Linked DNA regions of Homo sapiens: region 2 is reported to be linked to region 1. The links are microRNA targets in miRTarBase. Many come from high-throughput screens and were not tested one by one. Region 1 holds a microRNA gene; the other region holds the end of a gene's coding sequence.
What was found. Region 1 holds the annotated microRNA hsa-miR-1277-5p (AAAUAUAUAUAUAUAUGUACGUAU, at 1,425-1,448, opposite strand). A microRNA usually pairs through its seed, bases 2 to 8, with sites in the 3' UTR of a target mRNA and lowers its output. Matches are read on the target gene's strand: a 7mer-m8 pairs with bases 2 to 8, a 7mer-A1 pairs with bases 2 to 7 and ends in A, and an 8mer does both.

Region 1 (4,065 bases):
TCTAGTAAACCAACCTTTGAAGCTTCATAGCATCAATTTTTTAAAAGGTATCAGGTACTATCAGAGTAAGGACTTCTTATAACTTCTGATTCCTAAAGACATCAGAATGTTGCTGCACTGAGCTTTTCAATACCCATAACTCCTGGTAGTAACCTCAAGAAGAGTTAGGGCTTATTCTGATAAAAATACAAGAACAAAAAATAAAAGCATTTTACAAAATATTGTCTCAAGGATAAATTACCAATTAGAATATGAAAAGGACTTCTAAAAAGACTGAAATGTCTTCAACCACAAATGTGACAGATTCATGAAACATTTGCTGAACATCAGCCATGTACAGAGCGCTATACTAAAAGAATATAAAAGCTGTTTGAAATATACCATATAAATATGATGTCTGCTATAAACTAATATTGACATTGTATCTTTCCAACCTTTTTAGACACATCTTGTTTCAATTCTTGTACAGGGGACTCATTTCCAACTTTGTATGCAGTGTTCTCTGTTTCCTGTTTGAAAAAGAAAAGAAATAGAGACCAAATGATGACATCTTTTCTTTAAAAATATGCTTTAAAGGGGTACAAATGAGAAAATGTAGCATTAATAAATCAAAGGCCCTTAAAGGGCTTTGATTTCTTCTTCTTCTTTTTTTTTTTTTTTTTTTTTTGAGACAGAGTTTTACTCTGTCACCCAGGCTGGAGTGCAGTGGCACAATCCTGGCTCACTGCAACCTCTGCTTCCCGGGTTCAAGTGATTCTCCTGCCTCAGCCTCCCGAGTAGCTGGGATTATAGGCGCGTGCCACCACACCTGGCTAATTTTTGTAATTTTAGTACAGACAGAGTTTCACCTTGTTGGCCAGGCTGGTCTTGAACTCCTGACCTCAAGTGATCTACCCACCTCAGCCTCCCAAAGTGCTGGGATTATAGGTGTGAGCCACTGTGCCCAGCCTAAAGGGCTTAGATTTCTGAATACTGATAGATGCTCAGAAATTTTATGCCAAATGGGACAATGTAATTTGCATAAGAAAGTTACCCATCAGCAATATTCTATTATTCTGCAATAGGATATTTACCTTTAAATGTGAAAACTTGCTCAACTTTTTAACATTAAAAAACTGTAATGGACGATAAGAACTTCTACGTACTTTTATAGCTAAAAAGGATTAAGGATTTAAGCAAGGGGCTGAATAAAAATTGTTATTTTCCCCAAAGCATTGCTCCATAAATATGCACAAATACAAAAGTTTATAACACAGAAAACCACATTCAGGGAATAGTTTTCTTAAAATTCTACATGCTTTAGATAAAAGAAATCAAGACTTAACCAGAAGTTAAATGAAGCCCCTAAAAAAACTATGAAAAAAGATGAAAAAAATTAAACCCACCAAAAATACATATATATCTACGTATACATTTATATACACATACGTACATATATATATATATTTGGGAGGTTAGAAATGGATACTGCATTTCTGCTGGAAAAAATTAGGGTAAAATAAGACAATCATATATTTGCAAATCTCAATACAATACTCTTCTCAATCTTAAGTTGTCTATTTATAGAAGCACAGCAATTTGAATGCTACTCTTGATACTGAGGAAAAAAAACCATAATTCTTTGTGCACATCACAGAGTTTGTTAGAGGAAGGTCATTATAACCATTTTAGACAGATAAAGGACTCAAGGCACATTAATTATTTAGGTGGCACTTATACAAGTATCAGGATATGATCACAATAGGCTCAATAATGAAATTACTCCAGAGATTATTAAAATGTTAAAGATTTAACGTGCCAGTGAAATTTCTGTAGGACTTGCAATATCTTCGAGCACTGAATTCCTCCCCCAGAATTTGGAGAATACTACCAATCTTACACAGATTCTTCTAGAAAAAAAAAAATGTTTCATGGACTCTTAAGTATTAGATAAAATCCAAACAGTACCAAGGCCCATGAAGGCCTAAACATGACATAGCCTCTGCCTACATTTTTGATATCTTCTACACTCCTCATCTCCCTCTCATATCACTCCCCCACAATTACATTCTGGCCAATAGGATGATTCCTTGCCATTAGGGTCATAGCTCAAGTGCTATTTTATCAGAAAATACTTCCCTGACCATCTCAAAATAGCCTTAGCTGACTCCTTAACTTTCTATCACATTATCCTATTTTTCTTTTTTTTTTTAACTTTAAGTTCAGGGGTACATGTGCAGATTTGTTACACAGGTAAACTTGTGTCATGGGGTTTTGTTGCACAGATTATTTCATCACCCAGGTATTAAGCCTAGTACACATTAGTCATTTTTCCTGATCCTCTCCCTCCTCCCACCCTTCACCCTCTGATAGGCCTCAACATGTGTTGTTCCCCTCTATGGGTTCATGTGTCCACATCATTTAGCTCCCACCTATAAGTGAGAACATGCAGTATTTGGTTTTCTGTTCCTGCATTGATTTGCTAAGGATAATGGCCTCCAGCTCCATCCATGGCCCTGCAAAGGACATGATCTCGTTCTTTTTTATGGCTGCATAGTATTCCATGGTGTATATGTACTACATTTTCTTTATCCAGTCTATCATTGATGGGCATTTAGGTTGATTTCATGTCTTTGCTATTGTGAATAGTGCTGCAATGAACATGTGTGTGCATGTGTCTTTATAATAGAATGATTTATATTCCTTTGGGTATATACCCAGTAATGGGATTGAGGAGAGGATGTCAAACTATCCCTGTTTGCAGACAACATGATCTTATATCTAGATAACCCATAGTCTCAGCCCAAAAGATTCTTAAGCTGATAAACAACTTCAACAAAGTCTCAGGATACAAAATAAATGTGCAAAAATCACTAGCATTATTATACACTAATAACAGCCAAGCAGAGAGCCAAATCAGGAATAAACTCCCATCATTTGCAATTGCCACGAAAAGAAAATACCTATGAATACAGCTAACTAGGGAGGTGAAAGGAGAACTACAAACCACTGCTCAAAGAAACCAGAGATGACACAAACAAATGGAAAAACATTCCAAGCTCATGGATAGGAAGAATCAATATCGTTAAAATGGCCACACTGCCCAAGGCAATGTATAGACTTAATGCCATTACTATTAAACTACCACTGAGATTCTTCACAGAACTAGGAAATTTTATTTTAAAATTCATAGGGAACCAAAAAAGAGCCTGAATAGCCAAGGCAAATCCTAAGCAAAAAGAACAAAGCTGGAGGCATCATGCTACCCGACTTCAAACTATGCTACAGTGCTACAGTTACCAAACAGCATGGTACTGGTACAAAAAGAGACACACAGACCAATAGAACAGAATAGAGAATACAGAAATAAGACCGCACACCTACAACTATCTGATCTTCGACAAACCTGATGAAAACAAAGAATGGGGAAAGGCTTCCCTACTCAATAAATGGTGCTGGGAAAACATTATCCTATTTTCCTTCATTGCACTTATCGTTCGAAATGACCTTATTTACTTGCTTATTTTTTGTCTCTTCCCTGTCCCACTAGAATGTAAGCTCCATGAGAGATGGACCTTGTTTGTTCTATCTACAGTTTGTTCAGTACCTAAAACAGTGTCCAGCACTAAATAATCATTTGCTGAATGAATGTTGAATGATGCATGCTCTGTTTTTTCTTCAGTTAATACATACATCTTAAGTTTACATAGGCTTTAATTGGATCCTGGTTTTATATGAAAGAAGGCCGGGCACAGGCTGAAACCCGGAGTTTGAGACCAGCCTGGGCAACACAGTGAGACCTCGCCTCTAAAAAAAATAATAATTAGCCAAGCATGGTGGTATGTGCCTGCAGTCCCAGCTACTTTGGAGGTTGTTGTGGGAGGACTACTTGAGCCTAGGAGCCTGAGGCTGCAGTGAGCTATGATAATGCCACTGCATTCCAGCCTGGGGAAGAAAGCAAGACCCTGTCTCAAAAAAAAAAAAAAAAAAAGAAATTAAAAAAAAGAAATAAAAATCTAACCAAGACCAATTGATAAGATAACCTTGACAAGGTGGAGAGAGAATACTTGGAAGCTGATCACCATT
Region 2 (4,059 bases), not on the chromosome of region 1:
CAGGACAGCGCCCCCTGCAGCCGCCTCTGTTCCTAAGTCCAAGACCCCCAGGAGCCCACAGTTGGGTCCCCCACGGGAGGGGGGGCTGCATTGCTCCAGCCTCCTGTGTGGCTTAAGGGGCCCTCCTTCCATGGCGTGAAGGGGCAGAGTAGCCCGGGGGATGTCCTCAGGCTGGGGCCTCCGTACTCCTGCATGCTGTGGCCTGGCTGTAGGTGGACCCGGCCCTGAGCCCGGAGGAGGCCTTGGCCCGGCCCTGGAGGGTGGCTGGTTTGTGTCCTTCAGGTCCTGGGTGCGTAAGGTGCAGGTAGGGCCTTGGAGCTGTGGCTCCTGGGGGTGGCAGAACTCTGCCTGGCCCAATGCCCAAATGCCGCTGGTGTGGGCATGGGAGGCTGTGTGTACGCCCCTCCTCAGAGGAGACATCCCCTGTCCTGAGCCTGGAGAGTTCGGGGGCTGCCCCTCCCTCAGCCTCAGCCAGACCTAGAGCGCAGGGGCCCCCAGCCAGCGGCCCCTCCTTAGCCCCTCCCTATAGGCTCTGTCAGGGCACCCTGTACTGTCCCATTCTGCCCCCAGGGCTGTTGGCTCAGCCAAGTGAGGACCACGCGGAAGGCGCCCCTGGCTGCGTGCGCCATGCAGGGGCCCTGCTGATGCCTCCCCCTTGTCTCCCTCCAGTACACCTCCAGCATGAGAGCCAAATACCTCGCCACGAGCCAGCCTCGCCCTGACTCCAGCGGCAGCCACTAGACCGCGCCCGGCAGCCACCCACCCCACGTGCCAACTTCCCCTCCCCGTGCCAGCACTGCCGCTTCCACCTGGGCCACCCACCGGACCCTCGCACGCCGTGCCAGGCCTGCCCCAGACGCGTCTGCAGGCCGCTTGCCCTCCTGTCCCCTCCCCGCAGGGGCACAGTGGAGACGCAGGGGCTCTGGGCCCGTACCGCCAACTCGGGTCACACCTGAACGCTGCTGCCAGCCGATGCCCCAGCCCTGCACGCCACCCACTATCCCGGCACGCTCCCTCTGCAGATGGTCGCCGCACCTACAAGCCCTGGCCGCACCCAACCTGTGTTGTTGCCGCCCGGCCCTTCCCTCCACAGCTCTCCTTCCTCCCGCCCGGCACTTCTGTGGACCCCTTCTTAGTTCACAGGCACGGCTGGGGCCGCTCTGTGCTGGCGCCTGCTGGCCACTGAGGGACAGGGACACGTGCCACCTGCTCATCTCTGCCCTGAGGTCACCCCGTGGTCCCTCCACGTGCCCATCTCTCTGCAGTGCCCTCCTCGCCTGTGCAGCCCGCCCACCCACAGGCTCACCCCTCCTGCCGGCTGCCAGAGGCCCCCTCCAGCAGGGCCTCTCTCCGTTGCCCCAGCTTCACTCTCTCCCTCAGCACCTGCCCTGCTGGAGGCCCCAGCCCTCCGTGGACAGCAGGGGCCACGTGGAGCCCGGGCCGCTCACCCGCCACCCAGTGCTGGCCGCCTTCTTGGTGCCAAACCCCCTTCCCCCACCCAGAGACTGGGCAGCTGTGTCTGGTTCGTTCTTTGCACTAACCACATTTGTCATCTCTAGGGCAGGCTGGGGCTGCGGGCTGAGGGGGACCGCTGGCACCCCCCTTCCCTCCCTTCTTGGTTCCATTTCCATCCATGACAGGTACAGCATCCCAGGAGCCCGGCCTGAGGGGCTGGACCCGAGCCGGCTGTGAACATCCCTCAGCCCCTGCTGTCCCCCCTTGGGACTAACCACTAACCTCACCCCCAAACTCCACGGGTGCCCCTAGCTGGCCCAGAGCCGGCAGTGTGAGCCCAAGTCCGGGCTGGAGCCGAGGCCGGAGCAGCTGTCTGGGAGTCAAGGCTGCAGTAGCGTTTCTTCATGGGGTGCTCCAGGGGGTGCCACAGACCGACAGGCAGCCCAAGGGCCTGGACACCCCTCCCCAGGCAGGTGCTGCCCCAGGAGGACTGTCCTCGGGAATGAACCTCCCGCGGGCTTTGGACTGAGGTCCCTGTGGCCTCGGTCTCCTCCCCATGAAGTGGGAGCGAGGCTCCCCAATGGTGCTTTTGGCTTTAGTGTACGATGTTTGCTGTGCTTCCCGCCGTGGAGGGCAGAGCCACCCCACATCAGGATCGGACGTGCTACCCCTCCCGGTCCCGGCCCTGGCCCAGCCAGCCCAGCCCTCGAGGCTCGATGCCTGTGCCAAGGCCAGGGGCAGCCAGAGGGCAGCTGGATGGCCACGTGCAGGGGTCAAGGCTGGGCCCTGCAGTGGGGCGGGCCGCCAGCCCCAGCAGTTTACAGACGCATGGCTCTTCCTCCCAGAGCAGCCGGCAGCTACCTGGACCGGAAATGTCCTCATCCCCTCCCTGGGGCCAGGCTCTGCCCTGGCCTTCCTCTGTGAACCCCTCCTTTCTTTGTGCTGGTGTCTGGGACCAAAAAGGGGGAATATGGGAGGGCAGAGTGGGGAGGGGAGTCCATGGGCCTGGGGCCCCAAGCCGGGGCGTCTGAGCTCCCCAGGCATGACCAAACCTCAGTGGAGGGGCCTCTGCTTCAGGCCCCGCCTGGCTGACATTCTGAGCCCCCCTCGGAGGCCCCGCCACAGCCAACCTGCCCAGTCTTTCCTCTGGGCTTGACCCGCCAGGGGAGTTCTCCAGGCCTAGGGCCAGGAGAGAGGCCCTGGCACCCTGGCGTGGGTGCCCGCCAAACGCCCTGCGACCGCTCAGAAGCACAAATGCTGTCCATGGCCGTGAGGCTGCCTGCCAGGTGAATGGACATAGCGTGAGAGGCGGTGAGGCCAGGGCTTCCAGCCTCGTGCTGTCTCGGGACTCCTGACCGTGGTGTGCGTGTGTGCCCGTCTGTGACTTTCTACTCACCAAGGTTGAAGAAAGGAAACGGGGAAAATCAAAAGGGGTTCAAACCCCACCTCAGTAGGTGGAGGGGAGCGCCTGCCATTGGTTGTATTTTTGTTCTGAGTTTTCGGTGCCGTGTTCCTAACTACTCCATCCCATGACCTCGCCACACCTACTGGGGCATCTGGCTGGTGCCTGCTGCCATGGCCAGCCCCCACTCTCACCCTGCACAGGGGGTCTTGCAGCCCCCAGGCCCACAGCCTCGTTGGGAGGACAGGGTGGCCCTGGGGACAAGAGGGAGGAGCCCAGGGGCTTACCTCACTGAGAGTGCTCCCCAGCAGGCATCCACTACCCCAGGGCCCCCCACATGTCATGGCAAGGTTGGTAGTGAATGGGCCTGGTTGGGAGCAGCCCCTGGCCCATTGCCCACCCACCCATCTCACTATGCAATTCGAGTTCCAAGCAACATTTGCTCCTGCCCTGGGGCCAGCTCTGCCCCAGCCCTGAGAGGGGTGGTGAGGCAGCCCCCTGGACCCCAGAACCCCAGACAAGGGGGCAGGCGGGGGACCAGGGCCTCTCCTGTGGGATCTTTGTTTTGTGTTTAACCATAATGGTTGTGTACTGAACCACTTCATATTTGTTATATATAATATATATATATATAATCTCCTTAAGACTCAGCCTCCTGGTTTACCCCCCCGGCCTGGGCATCTGACCTCCCCCACCCCAGTGTGATTTAACATCCAGGAACTGAGGCCTGAACCATTTTGCATTTCCCCCTCCTCCAGCCTCTGTAGGGCCATGGCTGTATGTACTGTCGCTGTGTTTTTTTGTTTTTTTAGAACTGGGTTTGGGGGCTGATTTTTATTTCTTTGGGGGCTTTTTTTCTTGGCAAATACTAAAAATCTCGTCAATGTAATTTCTGTGGTTTCTATTCAGCTTGGGTTTCATGTTTTAAAATAAATTTTAAAAAGCAAGCCTCTCTTCCTGAGCTGCTTTGGCTCCTGGCTGGGCGCTGGTAGGGAGTCCACGGCTCCAGGCAGGGGCATTGGGGGAACAGGGGGACACTGAGGGTGGGGCCGACCAGGTCAGCTCCGAGGGGTCGGCTGGGCGGGGCCTCTTGTGGTTGCGGGCGGGGCCTCTCGGGGTTGTGGGCGGGTCTTCAGGGGTGGGCGGGGCCTCGGAGTGACTGGGCGGGGCGCCGGGGACAGGCTCTCCAGGGATGGGGTGGG

Region 2: miRTarBase lists TTYH3 as a target of hsa-miR-1277-5p. The part of its 3' UTR that is shown has no 7-base or 8-base seed match.

The regions. Positions count from the first base shown.
Region 1 is chrX:118,383,784-118,387,848 of GRCh38, reverse strand. It overlaps MIR1277 (microRNA 1277), which reads right to left and starts at 1,455; the gene lies at 1,378-1,455. WDR44 (WD repeat domain 44) reads right to left here. Exons shown (of 20, transcript NM_019045.5): 3 at 435-509.
Region 2 is chr7:2,660,999-2,665,057 of GRCh38, forward strand. It overlaps TTYH3 (tweety family member 3), which reads left to right. Exons shown (of 14, transcript NM_025250.3): 14 at 670-3,804. The coding sequence ends at 741. Among named protein-coding and RNA genes, the nearest start is that of AMZ1, 25 kb to the right of the region's middle. RefSeq lists enhancers at 1-33, 114-213, 3,877-4,059.